Homo sapiens: one gene and its partners. The protein of the gene in region 1 interacts with the protein of each later gene in a pairwise test. Each region holds a gene or a part of one and is shown on either strand. Other genes may lie near its edges.

Region 1 (3,500 bases):
TTTAGAAATCTAAAAAAAAATACCTATAGTTTGAATAGCACTTGTGACAGTCTTTTACCACAAAGAGACAACGAAGTAGGGAAAGTTAATCGTAATTACATGCTCATCCCCAAGCAGCATTTCCTTTGACTTCTCTGGATGACAACTGAAACTGAAGGCATGCCAGCAAAGAATCCGAGTGAGCTGGGCAAAATGCTCTCTACTTCAACAGTCTTTTGCTAATGTGAAAGAAAAAAAAAAAAACAAGATTACAAAAGCCAAAAGCTTTTTTTTTTCTTACCTCTTTTAACCTGAATTATGACTCTTACCTAGGGGAGTACCCAAGGCCAGGCTGAGATACACCTCAGAAAAACAGTTGATAAAGAGACATCAGGTACACTGGAAATTGAAGAGGCCTGGGCCAAGATCAGATAACCACTGTACATTTTTTAAAATAATATTTAAATATAAAATACACATTAATGAAATTACAACCTAATAAATTTATTCAATCTTTTATAGCCACATATTTTATAACAAAACTGTCTGATGGATGAGCAACTGCACTAATTTAGCTGACTTCTGAAAGACGCTGGCACACTTTAGAAAATGAATAAGGCAATAAGCATGTGAAGATATCAGTAAAGAGGAAGTTGGGTGGATAGGTCGCCCTATTTCTTCAATAGGACCCTCAGGAGTTCACCTCCTTAGGACAAAAACACCTCCCTAGGGTCCTGGAGGCAGACAAATCAATAAAAAGAAGAGATAACTGGAAAAAAGGTGTGTAGGGGGAGGGAGGGACATTTCCCTTACTATACTATTTACTCTACAGCCTTAGAGGTAGGCTATTACTAATGTCCAGGCTACAAAGGAATTGAAAACCTTTTTTAGTGTAATTCCACTTTAATGAGGGATGGGGAAGTAGAGTGCAACTGTCCACTGACTGATCTGATCTAAAAAAATGATAAATTTAAAAAGTGAAAAAAACTTTACCTGAAAGAAACTGGGAATAATTAGGGGCCAGGCACAGTGGCTCACGCCTGTAATCTCAGCACTTTGGGAAGCCAAGGCGGGTGGATTGCTTGAGGTCAGGAGTTCGAGACCAGCCTGGCCAACATGGTGAAACCCATCTCTACTAAAACACAAAAATTAGCTGGGCATGGTGGGGGGTGCCCCATAATTCCAGCTACTACGGAGGCTGAGGCAGAAGAATTGCTTGAACCCAAGAGGCGGAGGTTGCAGTGACCCGAGATCGCGCCACTGCACTCCAGCCTGAGCGACAGAGTGATACTCCATCTCAAAAAAAAAAAAAAGAAAAAAAAAACTGGGAATAACTAGTTTATTACAAAAATATTAGTTTGAACGATGACTTTCCTAAGGCACTGCAAAAAGTGTTTACATTTATTTTTCAAATAACATGATCTGCACAAAATTTCAGCTGCATTAATGTAACATTTTCTAAATTGTGCCCGTACTGAGAAGGAACCAGCTGCCAGCCAATTTCACTGCATGCCCACTGTGTTTCTACACTGGTCATTAACAACCAAGATTCTGGCTACCACTATTTCTTCTTCCTCACGTTTGCTTCAGGGCAGTTTTTTATTATCCTATGAATATTTGAATATTTTCTAACCTGTCCCTGATCCTAAATAAAACAAAGAACCTGTTCTAGAGGAGTGATATTCAAAGTATTAGACATATAAGACATTTAACATCTAGAAAACCAAATTATATTTTGCTCAATTCAATTCTAATCCAATTATGGGTAAAAATAAGTCACAAGACAAGTTTTATGTCTATCTTAGGAGATGAACTAGAATTACTTAATTCCAGCTGCCTTCTCAATAATCACACCAATGATAAAAACAGAAAGTAGAAAGCTAAATAATCAAAAGAATTTCAACTCAGTGCACACTTACAAGGTACCACACACGATGTTCTCTCCTTCAATCTGTTAAACATTCCCAAGTTTCAAAATCACAGAACTAGAATGAACGCATATCATACCACCCAGTTCAGCAACCAACAGTTTATTAAAGAAACACAGCCAAGGCACATTCAGAGTGCCATAGGAGATAAAACAGAAAGACACAGATTCTCACCATCAGGAAACTTACAATCTGGCTGAAAGAATGGTCAAAATAACACAACCTTTCTGAATTACTAACAGGTACAAAAAGCTATACGATAAATATGTCCATTGTATTCATATCCATTTCATGGATAATTTTTCTGTATTAGTACAGGCATATCATCTAAAGAAAACATAATACTTAGAAGAAACTAATTAGCTTACAAATTTACATTCTAAATGTTTCCAACAAACTGGATAGGGCCCAGGAATATGTACTGAGAAACTAGTTCTGTTCTGGTATTAACAAGAAGGGAGGGGTGGACAGGTTACTAAAGCTGCCAGGCCACAATGTCAACTACAACGTGGAAAAGACTAGCCAAAGAATGGCAAGTGTTTTTATTTCGTAAAAGCCAGTTTCAATTAACTGGTTAGTGACTACCTCAAGCACTCCGCTGAGACTGTTAAGATTCCTTTAAGTAAAAAGCTATGTCCTGTGTTCGTTGCCCTCAGAAGTTGGATGTATGTTTGAGATGGTGCTACTGACTTAACATAAGAGTGTTCCCCGGGTTGTTTTTCCAGTCTCACTTGTGATCAATGCCGGCAATTCAGCTCTCAACAGCTATAAAACACTACTGTGTAACTAAGTACTTCCCTGATTCTGAACAACAGATAATAACACCTAACACTTGATGTTTCTTATAAAGCTGGCACTGTTCTAACCACTTACCCCGTATTAACGCATATAATCCTCACAACAACCTCTCTGATACAGATTCTACTATCACCACCCCTGTTTTACAGAGGAAACAATGAGGCACTAGTTACCAGGTAGAAGAGCTTGCCCAAGGCTTTAAAGTGGGTGACACAACCAGAACCTGACCTTAAGCAGTCTGGCTCCAGAACTACTTTTTAACCATTCTGCTTACTGCTTCTTTGTCAACTGTACAGTGATCAAACCCAGACTTCAGTTATGTTAGTGCACTGTGTAAGCCAGGTGCCTGGGCTTCAGGAGAGTGTAAGTCAATGTTTTAGCTGCAGTCCTGAAATGTTTACTCCCTCCAAGGGGCACGGATTCTGGCGAATTGCACTCAAATTACCCATACCTTGGCCATCGGTACATTACCTCATTTGACATATATTTTAAATCAAAACAATCTCAAAAATCATCGTTCCACCACATAAAATAAACCCTCTGTCTAGAATGCTCAGGGAATGCAGGTTTTAGGGTTAAGACAATTCTCTCATTAACAGAACATTAGTCAGAAAATTAGAAGAGAGGTGGTGATTCCTAAAACGTAAGTCATGGAGAGATCAGCACTATGAAGAGAAAATCTGACAAGTGGTAATTTTAACGGGCTTTGCAACTGTTATTCTGAGCATCACCTCTCACAGTACAGGGGTGTAGAAGGCACATGGCACATGAGATTTAACTGAATGGTAAATACTA
Region 2 (2,649 bases), on another chromosome or scaffold:
AACTCCTGCCCTGGGAACTCCTGGGCGGGGGGGAGGGGGACACTGCCCAGAGGCGCTACTGAATGTATGAGAAGCTGGTGCTGGGCTGGGGGGAGGGGGGTTGTGGCCAGAAACAGGGAAGGAGGTAGGTCTCTTCCCCAGGGAGGGGTGGGACCGGCAGGGGTGACTTGAGGGGCTCCTACTCCTGCCCCACGTTGACAATCAGTATGTCTGTTATGTGCGATTTTTCACCCCGTTGTGTTTTGGGTCAGGATTTTAAAGAAAGATATTTTTATGGTAATTGTTGCTCGTCTATTTTACTATATATTTATGTAATAAATATATGATGAAAATAACCCCCTTGGGCACCCCCCTTAGACTTGTGTGCTGTTTCCCTATATCCTCCCATCTGCTGGCAGAGTACCCACCCCACAAACTGACCAGATGGAGAGGTGGCCCCCCCCAGCCTTGGCAGTATTTCCACCCCACCCCCCAAACGAGCACACACCACAGAAGCCAGCTCAGCTGTGAACTATTGGATTTGAGACAGGAACAGAACAAATCAGAGGGCCAGGGGAGGGTTGTGGGGGAGACAGAGTGGTTTAAATAGGGGAGGAGGGGAAGTTCGGTGATGGGGGAGGGAGGCAGGTATTTACAAGAAGGCTCAGGGGGCCAGAGGCTCATCTTGGAATATTTTATAACAATATAAATAAGATTCTGGTTTGCTTTTCCTTTTCGTCTCGTAAAGGAGAGAGAAGTGCAGAGTTCGATTCTGTACAAGGGGGCAGCGGCAGAAGGCCGGCCGGGCGGGTCACTGGGCGTCCACCCGGAAGGACAGCAGCTTCTCGGAATGCATGTTGTTCAGGGTCCGCAGGTCCGGCAGCTTGAGCAGCAGCTTGGTGAAGCGGGAAGTCTCCAAGGGCCGGTTCTTCAGCACCAGAGCCCGAAGAGCCCGCAGCAGCGTCTCCTGGAGCTGCTCCACCGAAGCGGAATTCTCCATGCCCGAGCGGTCTGTGGGGAAGACGACAGCAGTGAGGCGGACTCCCCGAGCTCCTCTGAGGAGGAACCGGAGGTCTGCGAGGACCTGGCAGGCAATGCAGCCTCTCCCTGAAGCCCCCCAGAAGGCCGATGGGGAAGGAGAAGGAGTGCCATACCTTCTCCCAGGCCTCTGCCCCAAGAGCAGGAGGTGCCTGAAAGCTGGGAGCGTGGGCTCAGCAGGGCTGGTCACCTCCCATCCCGTAAGACCACCTTCCCTTCCTCAGCAGGCCAAACATGGCCAGACTCCCTTGCTTTTTGCTGTGTAGTTCCCTCTGCCTGGGATGCCCTTCCCCCTTTCTCTGCCTGGCAACATCTTACTTGTCCTTTGAGGCCCCAACTCAAGTGTCACCTCCTTCCCCAGCTCCCCCAGGCAGAAATAGTTGTCTGTGCTTCCTTGGTTCATGCTTCTACTGTGACACTTATCTCACTGTTTTATAATTAGTCGGGCATGAGTCTGTTTCCCAAGCTAGACTGTGTCTGAATCATGTCTGTATCCCCAGTGCCCGGTGCAGGGCCTGGCATAGAGTAGGTACTCCATAAAAGGTGTGTTGAATTGAACTGCGTCTGCCTCCTCCCCCGGGTCAGGCGAGAGCCTGACCTACCTGCAGAGACAAGCACCACCGCGGTGAAGAGGCCCAGCTCCTCCTCGGTAAGCGCCAGGGAGTTGAGCTTCTCGCTGAAGTCGAACATGGCACTGAGCAGGTCTCCCATGCCCATGGCACCAAGCTCCTGCAGGCTGTAGGTGGTGCGGCTTAGGAACATCACTGTCTGGTCCTTCACGTTGAACAACGAAGCAAAGCGCACCATCAGCACCTAGGAGGGAAGGGGAACAGTCATCCTGGGTGTGGTGGGAGGAGCACTGACCAAATCGCCCCTGTAGTTTGCCAGAGGGTTTAGCGGTGCTGCCTTCGATTTCTCAGTAGAGTGGGGGTTGTTTCTGAATGGCCAATGAGGGAGCCCAGGTGGAAGGATGGCTTTGGGATCCAATAAGCCTGAATCTGAGTGTCAGCTTTGTCACTACCTGTGACCTTGGGCAAGGCATTCACCAAAGTTAATCTGCTCTTGTCTAGAATGGGGGCAGCAGTGCACCCAAGGCATTATTTCAGTGTAATGGGTTGTGATTAAATTCCAGCTGAGATGACAGAAGTCCCAGCCATCAAGAGGAAGCAGCAGGAGCCGCTCAGCCCCTTTCACCAATCAGGCTATAAGGACAAAGATACTGGGTTCCAAAACCTTTCAGAGGTCCTGCCCACCCCAGACAGCAGGGCTTTCTGTTGGATCCTTCCCAAGGTCAAAAGCAGGAAGCGTCTGGGTGCAATGGCTCACGCCTGTAATCCCAATACTTTGGGAGTCCAAGGCGGGCAGATCACCTGGGGTCAGGAGTTTGAGACCAGCCTGGCCAACATGGCGAAACCCTGTCTCTAATAAAAATATAAAAATTAGCCAAGCGTGGTGGCGGGAACCTGTAATCCCAGCTACTTGGAAGGCTGAGGTAGGAGAATTGCTTGAACCCAGGAGGTGGAGGTTGCAGTGAGTGGAGATCGCACCATTGCACTCCAGCCTGGGCGACAAGCGAAACTCTGTCTCAAAAAAAACAAAAACCAGAAGCATAAACGGTCACTCACCTCAAAG
Region 3 (3,264 bases), on another chromosome or scaffold:
GCAGTGAGCCGAGATTGCACCACTGCACTCCAGCCTGGGCGACAGAGCGAGATTCTGTCTCAAAAAAAGGAAAAAATTAGCTGGGTGTGGTGGTGGGCACCTGTAATCCCCACTACTTGGGAGGCTGAGGCAGGAGAATCACTTGAGCCCGGGAGGCGAAGGTTGCAGTGAGCCGAGATTGCACCATTGCACTCCAGCCTGGGTGACAAGAGTGAAACTCCATCTCAAAAAAAAAACAACATTAAAAAAAAAATCTCTCTGTCTTCACACACACACACACACACACACACACACACTCTATTGGTTCTATTTCTCTAGAGAACACTGACTAATACACCTGCGCAAGTCCGTCTCATCTCTGAGCCTCAGTTTCCTCATCTGTAGTATTGGAGGGAGATTAATTAGCTGGTTCATGAGGGGTTGCCCATCTCTGTTATTCTCTCTTTTTTCAAAGACTCTGTAGGTTACAAAGAGAGGTTTAAGTAACTAGGCAAAGCAGAAAAGATTGCAAAACACTTTATTTCCATCACATATGTGCCAAGACTTGTGTTCTGTATCCAGGAGTGTGTTAGATACTAACATAGTGTTTCATTTACATGTGTGTGAAACCTGGGTGAAGAGCCAGGGTTTCTCTCCCCCACCCGCCTCAGAGTGCTTGTCCTGGAATCAGAGTGTAAAACCCCCTCTTGAAGCAGACACCAAAACTGAACTTCCACCCGGTCATGGGCCCTGCTCTTCCTGCTGTCAGCCTAGTCCAAAGAGCAATGAGGGAACTGCTTAGGAGGGGTCTGAGGGTGATGAGGGCCTGGGGGCCACACAGGGGTGGGTGCTGTCAGGTACAAGCCCATCCCTGCCTGCAAATAACCTTGCACAGGGTCCTTCCTCATTCTTTCCTCTTCCTTTTTGTTTATGAGATGAATGGCTCTTCTGCTGTGGCTTTAGGGGCAGTGGGGAGGCAGGGAGCTATTTGGGAACAGCCTGGAAAGCTGACCCTGCAGAATCTCCCAGAAGCCTTGGTGTGGCTATGGGTACCCAGGCTGTAGAAATCCCAGATGGTCCTCTTCCAGACCTCTCCCCAACTCCAGCTCACAGTTTCAGCTTCTTGGCACTGAAAACACTACTAGGGGAAGCAAGAGTCCACTTCAGGGCTTCTGCTTGGCCTCTACCCACCAGGGCTTGGACTCTGGACCTGCCCCAGCTAGGTTGGGGTTTCTGGGACTGCATGGCTCTGGCCCTGGAATCACGAAGCAGTGGGGAGAGCCCTTCTCTGCTCTGAGCATGCAAACCTTCTCACACCAGCCCACGGTTTCCAGGATTTCAGCCCCTAGGATGCCTGGGCCAGGACAGGAGAAGGAGGAGCAGAGGGTGGTGTTTCGGGCTCCAAGAAAGTCTTCGTGACCTTGGACTTGTCACTTGGCTTCCCTGAGCCTCAGTTTCCTTGTCTGAAAAAGTGGAGTGATAATCTCGATTTCTCAGGTCAACTGTGAGGTTGAAATAAGATATTGGTGGTGACAGGGCCTGTCACAGTGGGAGGCATCAGTGGTGGCTTCCTTTTCGACTGTGAAATCCTGGGCCAGCTGGTCAGCCACGCAGGGCAGCACCCAGTAGTGAGGGAGGAGAGGCCCGTGTGCTAAGGCTGCTTCCTGAGCCCAAAGAAGGGGCCAACCCAGCTCCGAAGACCAGGTTAGAAGTGGACTTGAGCAGAGGAGAGCAGAGGAAAGGCCAGGAGAGGGTGAGGGCTGGGATCCACAACCAGCCCTTGCCAAGTGGCTGCTGAGAGAGCAGGTTTGTGCTCCCTGCTCTGCAGACGTGCAAGCCCCAGGGCAGAGGAAGGGTTGTCGGGAGAGGACCCCAGCTTCCCTCTGGTGGGATGCTCCAGCTCGAGGGGCTGTGGAGGGGCAGTTTGGGCCGTGAGGCTGGGCTGGAGGGCACTGAGCTTAGAGGAAGACCCCTGCAGGCTGGAACCAGTGTGCGAGGCAAACAGGAGAGGGCTGGGGGACAGCTGGACAGGAGGTTCAGCAACCACAGCGGGGCCAAGGGACAGTGAGGGCAGGGGGCACTGGAGGAGGCTGGGAGAATCATGAGGCTGTGGACCTGGAGAGAGCGGCTGAGCTGGGTAACAGGAACCCGGGGTCTGGAACAGCTCCAGCTGCTCCCGGCAGCCATGTTGTCCCTGTGGGCCAGGGCCCAGGAGCCCCTCAGCCTGGTCCCAGCAGCCCAGGAGCCCTGGAGCTGAGCAGGAGGCACAATCCATGGGGCACAGGCGCTCATGCACGTGCAGGGTCCGGCTCCACCACGCCAGCTCGGCCTGCAGGGACTGGATCTCCTTCCGCAGGGCGAGGTTGTCTTTTTCCAGAGACTCGTGCTGCTGCAGAGAAGCAGATGGGCGGGGAGGGGAACCTCAGCCAGTGTCAGGGGCCCCGCATGAGCCTTAGCCCCTTCCAGGGTCCTCAACTTCAGGAGAAAGATGCCACCACCATTGGAATAGCCAAGTGGGGTCTCTTGGCCACTCTCTGGCCAGCCCTTCATAACCACCTACCAAGTCTCCCCTGTCCCACCCTCTGAAGGGGGCTCAGATCCGCCTGCTGTCATCCCACCACTAGTGCCCTGAGCCGGTGCCATTTCTCACCTGGGATATGCACGGGCCTCCAACCCGTGTGTCCCCCAAACCACCTATTCTCTTGCCCACAGGAGCCATTCAGCAACCATGTCATTAATTGCAGGTTAAAGCCCTTTAGAGGCACCCACCAAATTCCCTGTGGTAGAATTCCAGGCCTGTGTAGTGGCTGCAGCTCAGACCTCCGGTCTCCTCTCTCTCGCCTTCTTTCTTGCTCCCCTCCCTTCCTGACCCTCACATGAACTCTGCTTCCCGGCCACATTTCCTGTTTCCTCTGCCTGGACACCCTTCCGCCGCCCTTCTCTGTGCAAATCCCAACAGGGCCTTCCCGTGGCAACCTTGATGTCATTCTGTCCTAGATTGCTTATTGCCACTGCCCTTTTGAGGGCCCAGAACTCGCCCCTACGAGCACTGTGGGAGGATTCAGGGGATTGTTTTACAGGTTGACAGCATGAGTGTGTTCGATTCTGCATCCCTGAATCAGCATTTATTAAGTTCTGTTCTGCTGAACGCCGGTTCTGAGAACCCCTGAGACACAATCAATGTGCAGTTCTAAATAACCATTTATGATGACAGTAATGGTAAAAATGCAGAAAGAATTTTATATCCACATCTCACAGGGCTGAATAAATTGAACGACTTCCTTC

The links. The genes of interacting proteins can lie anywhere in the genome.
Region 2: the proteins of BACH1 (region 1) and NR1D1 interact in a two-hybrid assay, tested with the Homo sapiens proteins (one large-scale study listed by BioGRID and IntAct).
Region 3: the proteins of BACH1 (region 1) and BATF2 interact in a two-hybrid assay, tested with the Homo sapiens proteins (one large-scale study listed by BioGRID and IntAct).

The regions. Positions count from the first base shown.
Region 1 is NC_000021.9:29,301,922-29,305,421, reverse strand, and holds part of BACH1 (transcription regulator protein BACH1), read right to left. Parts: intron 219-3,500; exon of another isoform or gene 100-218; intron 1-99. UniProt on the Homo sapiens protein: Transcriptional regulator that acts as a repressor or activator, depending on the context. Binds to NF-E2 DNA binding sites. Plays important roles in coordinating transcription activation and repression by MAFK.
Region 2 is NC_000017.11:40,092,293-40,094,941, forward strand, and holds the end of NR1D1 (nuclear receptor subfamily 1 group D member 1), read right to left. Parts: coding exon 2,643-2,649; intron 1,831-2,642; coding exon 1,620-1,830; intron 1,576-1,619; exon of another isoform or gene 1,091-1,575; coding exon of another isoform or gene 991-1,090; coding exon 791-990; coding exon of another isoform or gene 728-790; 3' UTR 501-727; downstream 1-500. Other genes in the region: THRA (thyroid hormone receptor alpha), read left to right, coding at 728-1,090. UniProt on the Homo sapiens protein: Transcriptional repressor which coordinates circadian rhythm and metabolic pathways in a heme-dependent manner.
Region 3 is NC_000011.10:64,987,445-64,990,708, forward strand, and holds the end of BATF2 (basic leucine zipper transcriptional factor ATF-like 2), read right to left. Parts: intron 2,834-3,264; exon of another isoform or gene 2,699-2,833; coding exon of another isoform or gene 2,630-2,698; intron 2,369-2,629; coding exon 1,685-2,368; 3' UTR 501-1,684; downstream 1-500.